Linked DNA regions of Homo sapiens. The protein of the gene in region 2 purifies or fractionates together with the protein of the main gene of each other region. This does not show direct contact. Each region holds a gene or a part of one and is shown on either strand. Other genes may lie near its edges.

What was found.
Region 1: the proteins of CTSC (region 2) and ARMC9 fractionate together in Homo sapiens (co-fractionation; one large-scale study listed by BioGRID). This does not show direct contact.
Region 3: the proteins of CTSC (region 2) and POC5 purify together in Homo sapiens (co-immunoprecipitation; one large-scale study listed by IntAct). This does not show direct contact.

The regions. Positions count from the first base shown.
Region 1 is NC_000002.12:231,275,075-231,278,728, reverse strand, and holds part of ARMC9 (lisH domain-containing protein ARMC9), read right to left. Parts: intron 2,094-3,654; coding exon 1,954-2,093; intron 348-1,953; coding exon 271-347; intron 1-270. UniProt on the Homo sapiens protein: Involved in ciliogenesis. It is required for appropriate acetylation and polyglutamylation of ciliary microtubules, and regulation of cilium length. Acts as a positive regulator of hedgehog (Hh)signaling.
Region 2 is NC_000011.10:88,293,028-88,296,504, reverse strand, and holds the end of CTSC (dipeptidyl peptidase 1 isoform a preproprotein), read left to right. Parts: intron 1-240; coding exon 241-372; intron 373-1,996; coding exon 1,997-2,499; 3' UTR 2,500-2,913; downstream 2,914-3,477. UniProt on the Homo sapiens protein: Thiol protease. Has dipeptidylpeptidase activity. Active against a broad range of dipeptide substrates composed of both polar and hydrophobic amino acids. Proline cannot occupy the P1 position and arginine cannot occupy the P2 position of the substrate.
Region 3 is NC_000005.10:75,703,874-75,707,527, forward strand, and holds part of POC5 (centrosomal protein POC5), read right to left. Parts: intron 1,915-3,654; coding exon 1,831-1,914; intron 1-1,830. UniProt on the Homo sapiens protein: Essential for the assembly of the distal half of centrioles, required for centriole elongation. Acts as a negative regulator of centriole elongation.

The DNA.
Region 1 (3,654 bases), on a different chromosome or scaffold from region 2:
ATGATGAGAAACAGCAATGCCGGAGGGGCCCGGCACAGGCCAGTGGGCCAAGCAGACAGGGACGGAAAGAACATCCTGCTTCTGACTTCCAAAATTCTAAAAATTATAAAAGATTTCCAGTTGCTTATGAAAATCCCAGAAGGACAGAGAACATGTACAGTTTTCAAATACAGCAACCATCCTGGGCCAGCTGTGTGCCTGTGGGGTCACAGGCATTGGGTCCCCAGTGTAGCCTCCCCGAGCCCAGGGCCAGCAGTGCTGAATGAGTACCTCATGGTTTTCATGGCCAAGAAGATCCGAAAGGACTTTGAGCACGAGGCCTGCCACCTTGGCACACATGTTCTTCCCTATGGGAAACAAATCAAAGCTAAACATGACATGTCTAAACCCAGAAGCACAATTTTAGGTCAGGTAGACTTGGAGACAAATCTTGGCTCCTCTGCTCATGAGCTGTATGACCTCGGGTGAGCTGTATGACCTCGGGTGAGTCATGTAACCAATCTGGGCCTCAGTTTCCTCTTCTTTACTACAGGGATTACTATTCATACCTACCTCAAAAGGTGATGCAAAATTAAGTAGACTAATGTATGTAAAGGACTCAGTGTAGCATAGAACCTCGGTGCTCAGTAAACCATCCCAAGTGGTGGCTATTACTCCGGTCAGAGCACAGAGCGAGTCATTACAGTGAAAGCACAATACATTATAGAGCAACGTTCTCCCTCCCACGCACGGACACCACCATCAGGAAGACCATATAGGCATTTTAGTAGTTATAAACATCATCATAAAAATCACTGCAAATATGGTGATGATGATGAAGAAAAGCTAATTCTAATCTGATAAACATATTAGAAGTTAGGACTTTTGGCTGGGTGCGGTGCTTTACGCCTGTAATCCCAGCACTTTGGGAGGGCGAAGTGGGTGGATCACTTGAAGTTAGGAGTTCAAGATCAGCCTTGCCAACATGGTAAAACCCCCTCCCTACTAAAAATACAAAAATTCGCCAGGTGTGGTGGTGGGCACCTGTAATCCCAGCTACTCGGGAGGCTGAGGCAGGAGAATCGCTTGAACCCGGGAGGCAGAGGTTGCACCACTGAGCCAAGATCATGCCACTGCCTCTAGCCTGGGCAATGGAGCGTGACTTCATCTCAAAAAAAAAAAAAAAAGGCTAGGACTTTTTGCATGCTATTTTTTTAAATGACTGAAATAACAGTCATTTACTCAGTCAACAACACACAGTTACATGGTTCAGTCTACAAAGTATATAGAGGGGAAGATGCTCCAACAAGTCCTCCTGAGCCAGCTGTTTACCCAGGGAGCCTTTCTCTCCTAACACTGGATGCTCAGGCTGGGGAAAGCCACAGCCTGGAGGTGGCACCTCTTCTAAAGAAGCTTCTTTCATCCCAGGTAACAATTTAAATGAGATAGTACCTGTACCTGGAAAAGCTCAAATCACTACCTTCAGCGATCAAGTATATAAATGACTGATCAAGTATATAAATGACTTGTGCCCACAGGAGAACCTCCACCTCCAGGGCTGGGGCAGGGAAAAGAGTGTGATTCAGGGCAGGAAGTGTGGTTTAGTGTCACTGCTACTGCGGCCAGCTTAATCCTATAGTATCTTGGGAACACACTTCTTTGTCTTCAGAAAAGGGGATCATATTCTTAATTTCCTACCTCTGAATAATGCAATAAAGAAAAAGGTAAATGAACTTAGTCTCCTCTTAATGCAGGCACTACATATATACAAGACATTTTTTCCAGGGCAAGAATGGATTTTGCCTTCAGGGATTCAACAGCTTGATACCTAGTTGGAAATGCTTTCTACTCCTTTTTCTGTTTTTAGTTTTCTATGAGACTAAAAGCAAACCATATCAGGCTCACTAGAAACCCAGCTTCAAGAGTCAAGATCTCTTCCCCTTCTTGCACTAGAATGAGGGTCGGGGCTGAGACCTGTGCTGCGGAGGCAGAGGTTCATGAGCAAAGCCACCGAGTACTCCAGCGTGTAGTCAGACAGGCAGTCAGGGTCCTTCAGAACATCAACCAGCCAGAAGATGAGGCCGTCTTGAATCATCGCTGTCTGCAGCGGGCGCCTGGGAAGAAAGAGCCTACGGTAAATACAAACTGCCAAGAAACTTTTCATATAAGAGGAAACAGTAGGCTGGAAGCAGTGGCTCATGCCTGTAATCCCAGCACTTTGGGAGGCCAAGGCGGACGGATCACCTGAGGTCAGGAGTTGGAGACAAGCCTGGCCAACATGGTGAAACCCCGTCTCTACTAAAAATACAAAAATTAGCCAGGCGTGGTGACGGCGCCTGTAATCCCAGCTACTTGGGAGGCTGAGGCACGAGAATTGCTTGAACCCGGGAGGCAGAGGTTGCAGTGAGCCGAGATCGTACCACTGCACTCCAGCCTGGGCGATGGAGCAAGACTCTGTCTCAAAAAAAAAAAAAAGAAGAAACAGTAATGTGAATGCATATCAGAAAAGACAAACTTACAGAAGACATAGACTCTGAGGAATATTTTTGTTAAACCCATACAATTGAAATAACAAAAATTCTTTACATTTCAGGGATATTTATTAAGGGTTTAAATAAAGATAAGGTGGTAAGGAGGCCTCCTACTTTGAAAGTTTCCTTTTCAATATTTAAAATTAGCAGAGCATTGCTTCAAATATCTAATAAATATTTATTTGTAGCTTTTGGTTTACTTAACCCAGGAAACAGGACCATAGAAATACTTCTTTGACAAATAGGTTTTTTGTTTTTTTTTCCTGAGACGGAGTTTTGCTCTTATTGCCCAGGCTGGAGTGCAATGGCACGATCTCGGCTCACCGCAACCTCCGCCTCCTGGGTTCAAGTGATTCTCTTGCCTCAGCCTCCCAAGTAGCTGGGATTACAGGCATGCGCCACCACACCCAGCTAATTTTGTATTTTTAGTAGAGCTAGGGTTTCTTCATGTTGGCCAGGCTGGTCTCGAACTCCCAACCTCAGCTGATCTGCCTGCCTCAACCTTCCAAAGTGCTGGGATTACAGGCGTGAGCCACCGTGCCCAGCTGACAAATAGATTTTTACCTAAACGCTCTATAATCCAGCTCTAGGCACTCTGAGCTGTATAAAAATAAAGAAAACAAGGAGGAGCAAAAGCCTAGCTTAACATCACTTTGATTCACATTTCTATAGAGTAAGGGTAGTTTAATGACCTGGTTAATGCAAATTATAAGGAATGATTTTCCACCCAAAGTCCAGGTGTAGAATCTTACAAAATCCAATACCCCATCAAAATGTGTGATGGTGAATGTCATCAGGTTAGCTTTAAGAATTGCTGAGACTAAGTGTGGTATCATTATGAGATGCCATCTGGATTAGTAGAAAACTGACATGCCACAGAGAAGCCAGCTCTGCACATCTCCGGATGCGCAGGTTATGGTGAAACCACCACTCAGGACAGAACAGCAGAACCAGTTATCCGTTCATCCTGTTCTTAAACACTACACTGACCCAATCAGGGTGGCTTATTAGAATACAGTGAAGACTGCGCTCTCTTGGTAACTAGCTACCTTCTTCATTTATTGCAGAGACTCTGGAAAACTGCAAAAAGGTTAAGCACATTTACAGAACAAAAAAGCTTAAATTAACACTTAGAGGAAAAGAT
Region 2 (3,477 bases):
ATATTCTCAAAGAAAGTCCCATGTACTAATGTTTGCCTTTTGATGAAAAAGGATGAAATCTTAATGATTGCCTTAATAAGCTCAACAATGCTTGTTAGTTGAGTCTTCTTATTGTGCTGATTCTTATAAACAACAACATTCAGTATAAACATTAATGTATGTGATTCACTAAGGTTTTTGCATGATTCTCTGTGAGGCTTCAGATGTCTCTTGGATTATGTGTCTTTTTTTCATCGCCAGCATCCTGTGGCAGCTGCTACTCATTTGCTTCTATGGGTATGCTAGAAGCGAGAATCCGTATACTAACCAACAATTCTCAGACCCCAATCCTAAGCCCTCAGGAGGTTGTGTCTTGTAGCCAGTATGCTCAAGGTAAGTGTTGCATTTCAGACACCATTTATGAGCTATTTACCTGTGTGCAGCTGGCTGTTGTTGGCAAAGGCAAAAGGATGATGCAGTAGAGAGAGCGCAGTGTCTATAGTCAGAAAATCTGAGTGCAAGTCTGGCCCTATCACTTATTAATGGATGATTGCTCATGGAATTTACTGTACCATCCAGCAAAATGTCAATAGTTACTATATATTGAGTGAGCTCTGCTTGTTACATATATTGCCTAACAATGCTCAAAACTCTGAGAAGTAGTAAGTATAATCCCTATTTATGGGCGGGGAACAGGAACTAAGAAATTTTTCTAATAATTTGAAGGTCTCACAGCTTTTAGCATTGGAGTTTCACTTCTAATCATCGTCTCCAAAACCCAACTTTTATTAAAACTATACTAACACTGGTTTCTCTCTGGGAGAATTTTAAAATTCTGTACTTAGGGCTGGGCACAGTGGCTTATGCCTATAACCCTATCACTTTGGGAGGCTGAGATGGGTGAATCTCTTGAGTCCTAGAGTTTGAGACCAGCCTGGGCAACACGGCGAAACCCCTTCTCTATTAAAAATACAAAAAATTAGCTGGGCGTGGTGGTGTGTGCTTGTAGTCCCAGCTATTCAGGAGGCGGAGGTGTAAGAATCACCTGAGCCCAGGAGGTCAAGGCTGCAGTGAGCCGATATCATGCCACTGCACTCCAGCCTGGGCAAACGGAGTGAGGCCCTGTTATGAAAAAAAAAAAATCTGTACTTAGGCTTTCAGATCAGGCTGTATGTGATGTATGTCGAAAACACAGCTATAATTGATTGAGGGAGAAACGTTACCATTTTAAAGTTTATGCTTTCAAGCCCAGATTTGGCCACTAGGAATTTCCCAGCTCACTAGTGAAACTGCTGATGAGTGATTATTTGCCAGTGAGCCTTTCATTCTTTCTAAAATATGTACTACTAGTTGTGACTTGTAGGCTATAGGGGCTATAATATATCAAGACAATCTTTATCCTCATGAAGCTTACAGTTAAGTAAGAGATAGAGATTAAATAATTATAACAACAGAGTGAAGAACAGTGAAGAAAAAGTACAGAGTTATAATATATATAATAGGGCCAGGACTGCATGAGGAAGGTAGGAAAGACATTTCGGCAAGAGGTTGTCAGGGAAAAGACTTGCTTGAGAAAGAGCCAAGTTGTGGGGTCTGGCTGCTTAGCAATGACCATAATACCTAACTTTTGCTATTTTTACATGAAGTAACTAATTTAACCCTATGAGGAAAGTACTACTACCATCTAGATTTTACAGGTAAGTAAGCAGAGATACAGAGAAGTTAAACTCTTCACACGGCTTTGGCTTTAAACCTATATAGGCTTCAGAGCCTCCCCACTTAACCACTTTGCCATAGCTACATCCATATTAGGTGCTAAGTAGATATCTGTTAAGTAGAAGGAGGATGAAAGGATAGTTAGCTAGTTGGAAAATGGATGGATGAATGAAGTGATGCTTAAGCTAAGAACAACTTTCAGGGGTAACATGCAAAGAATAATGGAGCAAAGAAGAAAAAATAGAAAATGGGATAATCCTTTTTCTACTAAGGGGTAACCATGTGTGTTATTCATCTTCAGGCTGTGAAGGCGGCTTCCCATACCTTATTGCAGGAAAGTACGCCCAAGATTTTGGGCTGGTGGAAGAAGCTTGCTTCCCCTACACAGGCACTGATTCTCCATGCAAAATGAAGGAAGACTGCTTTCGTTATTACTCCTCTGAGTACCACTATGTAGGAGGTTTCTATGGAGGCTGCAATGAAGCCCTGATGAAGCTTGAGTTGGTCCATCATGGGCCCATGGCAGTTGCTTTTGAAGTATATGATGACTTCCTCCACTACAAAAAGGGGATCTACCACCACACTGGTCTAAGAGACCCTTTCAACCCCTTTGAGCTGACTAATCATGCTGTTCTGCTTGTGGGCTATGGCACTGACTCAGCCTCTGGGATGGATTACTGGATTGTTAAAAACAGCTGGGGCACCGGCTGGGGTGAGAATGGCTACTTCCGGATCCGCAGAGGAACTGATGAGTGTGCAATTGAGAGCATAGCAGTGGCAGCCACACCAATTCCTAAATTGTAGGGTATGCCTTCCAGTATTTCATAATGATCTGCATCAGTTGTAAAGGGGAATTGGTATATTCACAGACTGTAGACTTTCAGCAGCAATCTCAGAAGCTTACAAATAGATTTCCATGAAGATATTTGTCTTCAGAATTAAAACTGCCCTTAATTTTAATATACCTTTCAATCGGCCACTGGCCATTTTTTTCTAAGTATTCAATTAAGTGGGAATTTTCTGGAAGATGGTCAGCTATGAAGTAATAGAGTTTGCTTAATCATTTGTAATTCAAACATGCTATATTTTTTAAAATCAATGTGAAAACATAGACTTATTTTTAAATTGTACCAATCACAAGAAAATAATGGCAATAATTATCAAAACTTTTAAAATAGATGCTCATATTTTTAAAATAAAGTTTTAAAAATAACTGCATTATGGAGTTTATGTTTACTTCAGGGAATTTTTATCACTGACTCAGTAAGATTCACTTATGTTACCTATGTAAGCATTTATTTAAGAAGGAAAAGCATTTGAAGATATTTCAATTAAAAACAAAACTATGAACCTTTATGACAGGGAGATATACTCAGATAATGCCTAGTGAATCCTAAAATTATCCTTGGATGTTTGATGAGTCTGAGACCTCAGAGAAAAGAAATAAGAGTTTTGACAAAATCTGGATATTGGTGAATTTATTTTCTATGGTGTGTATCTTGTATTTGGGAGTATTGCTTAGTCTTCAGTAGGTGAGCAATAATAGCTTAATGAGTGAAATACTAGCAGCTTAGATTTAAATAGATTTTTGGAATCTCCCAGAGATATTTCACAGTGGATATGAAACCTCTATGCTAAGTAACATATGCCTTCTCTTAGAAATTATGTAACAGGAGAATAAGGCAGTCAGAGCTCTGAAACATAAACACGGACCACAGCCTTTTCAAGCTGGAAAGGACCATAAAGATCATGTAATTTAAACTCTTTGCACAGATAGAGACT
Region 3 (3,654 bases), on a different chromosome or scaffold from region 2:
GGCTGGGCACGGTGGCTCATGCCTGTAATCCCCGCACTTTGGGAGGCTGAAGTGGGCGAATCATGAGGTCAGGAGTTCAAGACCAGCCTGGCCAACATGGTAAAACCCTATCTCTACTAAAAATACAAAAAATTAGCCAGGCATGGTGGCACGTGCCTATAGTCCCAGCTACTTGGGAGGCTGAGGCAGGAGAATTGCTTGAACCCGGGAAGCAGAGGTTTCAGTGAGCCGAGATCGTGCCACCCACTCTAGCCTGGGTGATAGAGCGAGACTCTGTCTCAAAAAAAAAAAAAAAAAGCACTGAGAAAGAAAAGTTAATATTTTCTCACATATTTATGCTGGAATTAGAGACTATCTGTCATCACTTGTCACATATCTCACATTTGCTACGAGCATCCTAATAACAAAGATGGAAGAGCTTTCTTCCTACTGAAGGAAAGATGAATCTATGATAGAGAACTTGTTACTTAAATCTTTCAAGAATTCTTTTTTAAAATTTGTAAGATTTTAGTTTTTTTGCAAACATATTCTGCTTATGTAAAGACTTCTTTGCAAAAGGGAAAATAATTCCCTAACATGTGTGTTTGGTATAAAAAACATAACACAAGGTCTGGGCTAGTCATACTATGAAATGCTATCTGCATGTTCTGAGGATGGTTAAGAAACCCAAAGAACAGGTGGAATGACAATGTACATGAATATTCTCTTTTACTTGATTTTGCCAACTAGATCTGTACTCACAAAGAAAGCGATAGACTCTGCTTTTCAATTTAAAAAATATCTCAACACTTACCTTTTAAGAAATCAAATCATGTAACTTCAGAACTTGTAAGGGCTGTCAGAGATTATGATGCCTAAGACTTCTACTTACAAGTGAGGAAACTAAGGGTTAGAGGCATTACTTACGTGGTGACAAAAATGGTTACCACATTAAATAACATTAAATAGAAAAATATTCCACAATATTACATTTTAATTAATTATTCTGACTAGTCAAGAAAAAAGTCTCAGTCCAGTTCTAGTATGCTTTTAAAAGTTCTTTAAAGCCAGGCATGGTGGCTCATGCCTGTAATCCCAGCACTTTGGGAGGCCAGGGCAAGTGGATCACTTGATCTTAGGAGTTTGAGACCAGCCTGGGCAACATAGTGAGATCCCACCTCTACAGAAAAGTTAAAAATTAGCTAGGTGTGGTGGCATGTGCCTGTAGTCCCAGCTACTGGGGGAGGGGGCGCTGAGGCAGGAGGATCACTTGAGCCAAGGAGGTTGAGGCTGCAGGGAGCCCTGCACTCTAGCCTGGGTGACAGAGTGAGATCCTGTCTCAAAAACCAAACAAAATTAAAAAAATACAAAAAACAATCCCCCCAAAAAGCCTCTTTAAGATTTGCTAATCTTCCCTTTTAACAAAGACAAAGCAGACTTTTAAAGAAAAACACTAAATGATGGCGTAACAGGTGGCATAAAGATAGGATGAAAATCCTTACACTGGTACGCAAATGCCTGAAAGTTGGGAAACAGTGCATTGGTTTACATAAAAACTTGAATTGGCCAAACTATCTAATATCCCATTAAATCTTTTAAAAGACTTGCCCTCTAACTTAGCAATTTTAAGAAAGGATACTACACACTATAATGCATTGACCTGTCTTAATTGTACTATTTTGGTATCTTATCAAATTATTTTAAATATTATCACTTAAATTAGCAATAATAGCATTTTAAAATCCTGCTAATAAATAATATGCTGAAATTATTCCTCTTACTACATAGATAATATTCATCAAACCACAAAATGTTGTATATTAATACAAATAAGCTAAAGAAAAATCATACCATCTGTCTTTGAATGACTTGAAATATGGAAATCACATCCTTTTCCAACTTCTATTGCAGTTTCTCTTACTTCAGAGTTATTTCCTGCCAAAAAGAAAGCTTTTTAAAATTAAACTGAACCACTCTTAAATAAAATGTCTAATCACACATAATTTAAGAAGGTAGCAGTACATAATATTTTAGAACAAACAAAATACAACATGCTGGGGATATAGGAACACTAAAACAAAGGACAAGAACAGATAAAAATCTGAGACTAGAAAAAGACTTACTATATCATTGATAAGCTCCAACTTATGCACCAAATATAGATGAGAGATAATGTAGTCTACTATAGCATTCAATTCACACTAAGAGAATAAGTGGGTGAATGACATTAGAACTTAGAAAAGGATCTGCTCTCTTATGACACTGGGTATTTCCAGAGGCCCGCTGCTTTTCACTAGCCACAATCAAACTCAAGTGGCACTGGCTCCCCCAAAACATTTGCTTCCACTTCAGGAACCTGTAGTCAACAGATGGCAAAAAGGAAACTGGGAAAAACCTCTCAAGAATGACTGTTAGAGGCTTACACATACTTTGCCAATTTCCACATACCATGCCTTCTATCAAGCAACTGAGATACCAAGAATAAAGAGAATGTGGGATGATGAATTTACATAGAAGACTTTAACAAAGTCTACTTGTGAATCAAGATGACTAAAGGATATCTAAACTTACTATATAACGTATGTTTTAATCTCAAATCCTTTTTGGAAATGGCAGAGAATAAATAAATGCTATCTTACATAAGAGAAAAGAACAATGGTCTTAAATCCCAGATGATTACCTTGAACTGTTGACTACAGCATCTCGAAAGTTTTTTCTTTTTTTTTTTTTAAACAGAGTCTTGCTCTGTTGCCTAGGCTGAAGTGCAGTGGCATAATCATGGCACACTGCAGCCTTGAACTCCTGAGCTCATGCAATCCTCCCACCCCAGCCTCCCAAGGTGCTGGGACTATAGGCTGCTCTGCCCGGCTAATTTTTTTGTAGAGCTAGGGTTTTGCTATGTTGCCTAGGCTTGTCTCAACCTCCTGGGCTCAAGCAATCCTCCTGCCTCAGCCTCTGAAAGTACTGGCATTACAAGCATGAGCCACTGCCTGGCCTGTATTTTAAGGCTCTCATCCTGTGGTCCTGTTTGTTGTTCCACTGCAACAGGCCAAAGACAGAGGAACAGTGAAAAATCCACGTCTACAGAGAATGAGAGACAACAGACACTAGAGCTATGACTTAGCAGAAGCCCAGGAGCCTTTGGCCTCTGAGTAGGCTATGTCATGCGCCTTCAAGGACAGGGATCCTTGGAGTTACGCCTATAGTGTGATAACTGGTCCTTATCAGGACTGTTTTAGGAAGGCTTTCTGTGCCCTTTGAAAGAACATTTATTTAGAGTTTGGGATGTTGTCTTCACCTGAATAAGGAATGGAGGTAAAAGGAGCTTTATCCTCTTTTCTCCACTTTTCACTCATCTATCAACACACATCCTGGTTTATAGTAGCTTTCAGTTCTGTTGCTGACATGGTCCACAGATGGGTTCACCTTGTGATAATTATTCAAACAGTCCTCCATGCCCATATAAATACTGCTGATAAAGCACTAGCATGAGGTTTGTAAAGTAATTTAAGAGACTCTCAGGGTTACCATCTTTAATTTTAGTCTTGGGCATTTAGTTTTCAGGTTAATCCTGGCATAAAACTGTTGGAACAAGTACTGAGATACAACATACCAAAAAGCCATGCAGTTGCCATAGCATTGCTTCAACTTTATTATTCTTCATAAAAGTAAGAG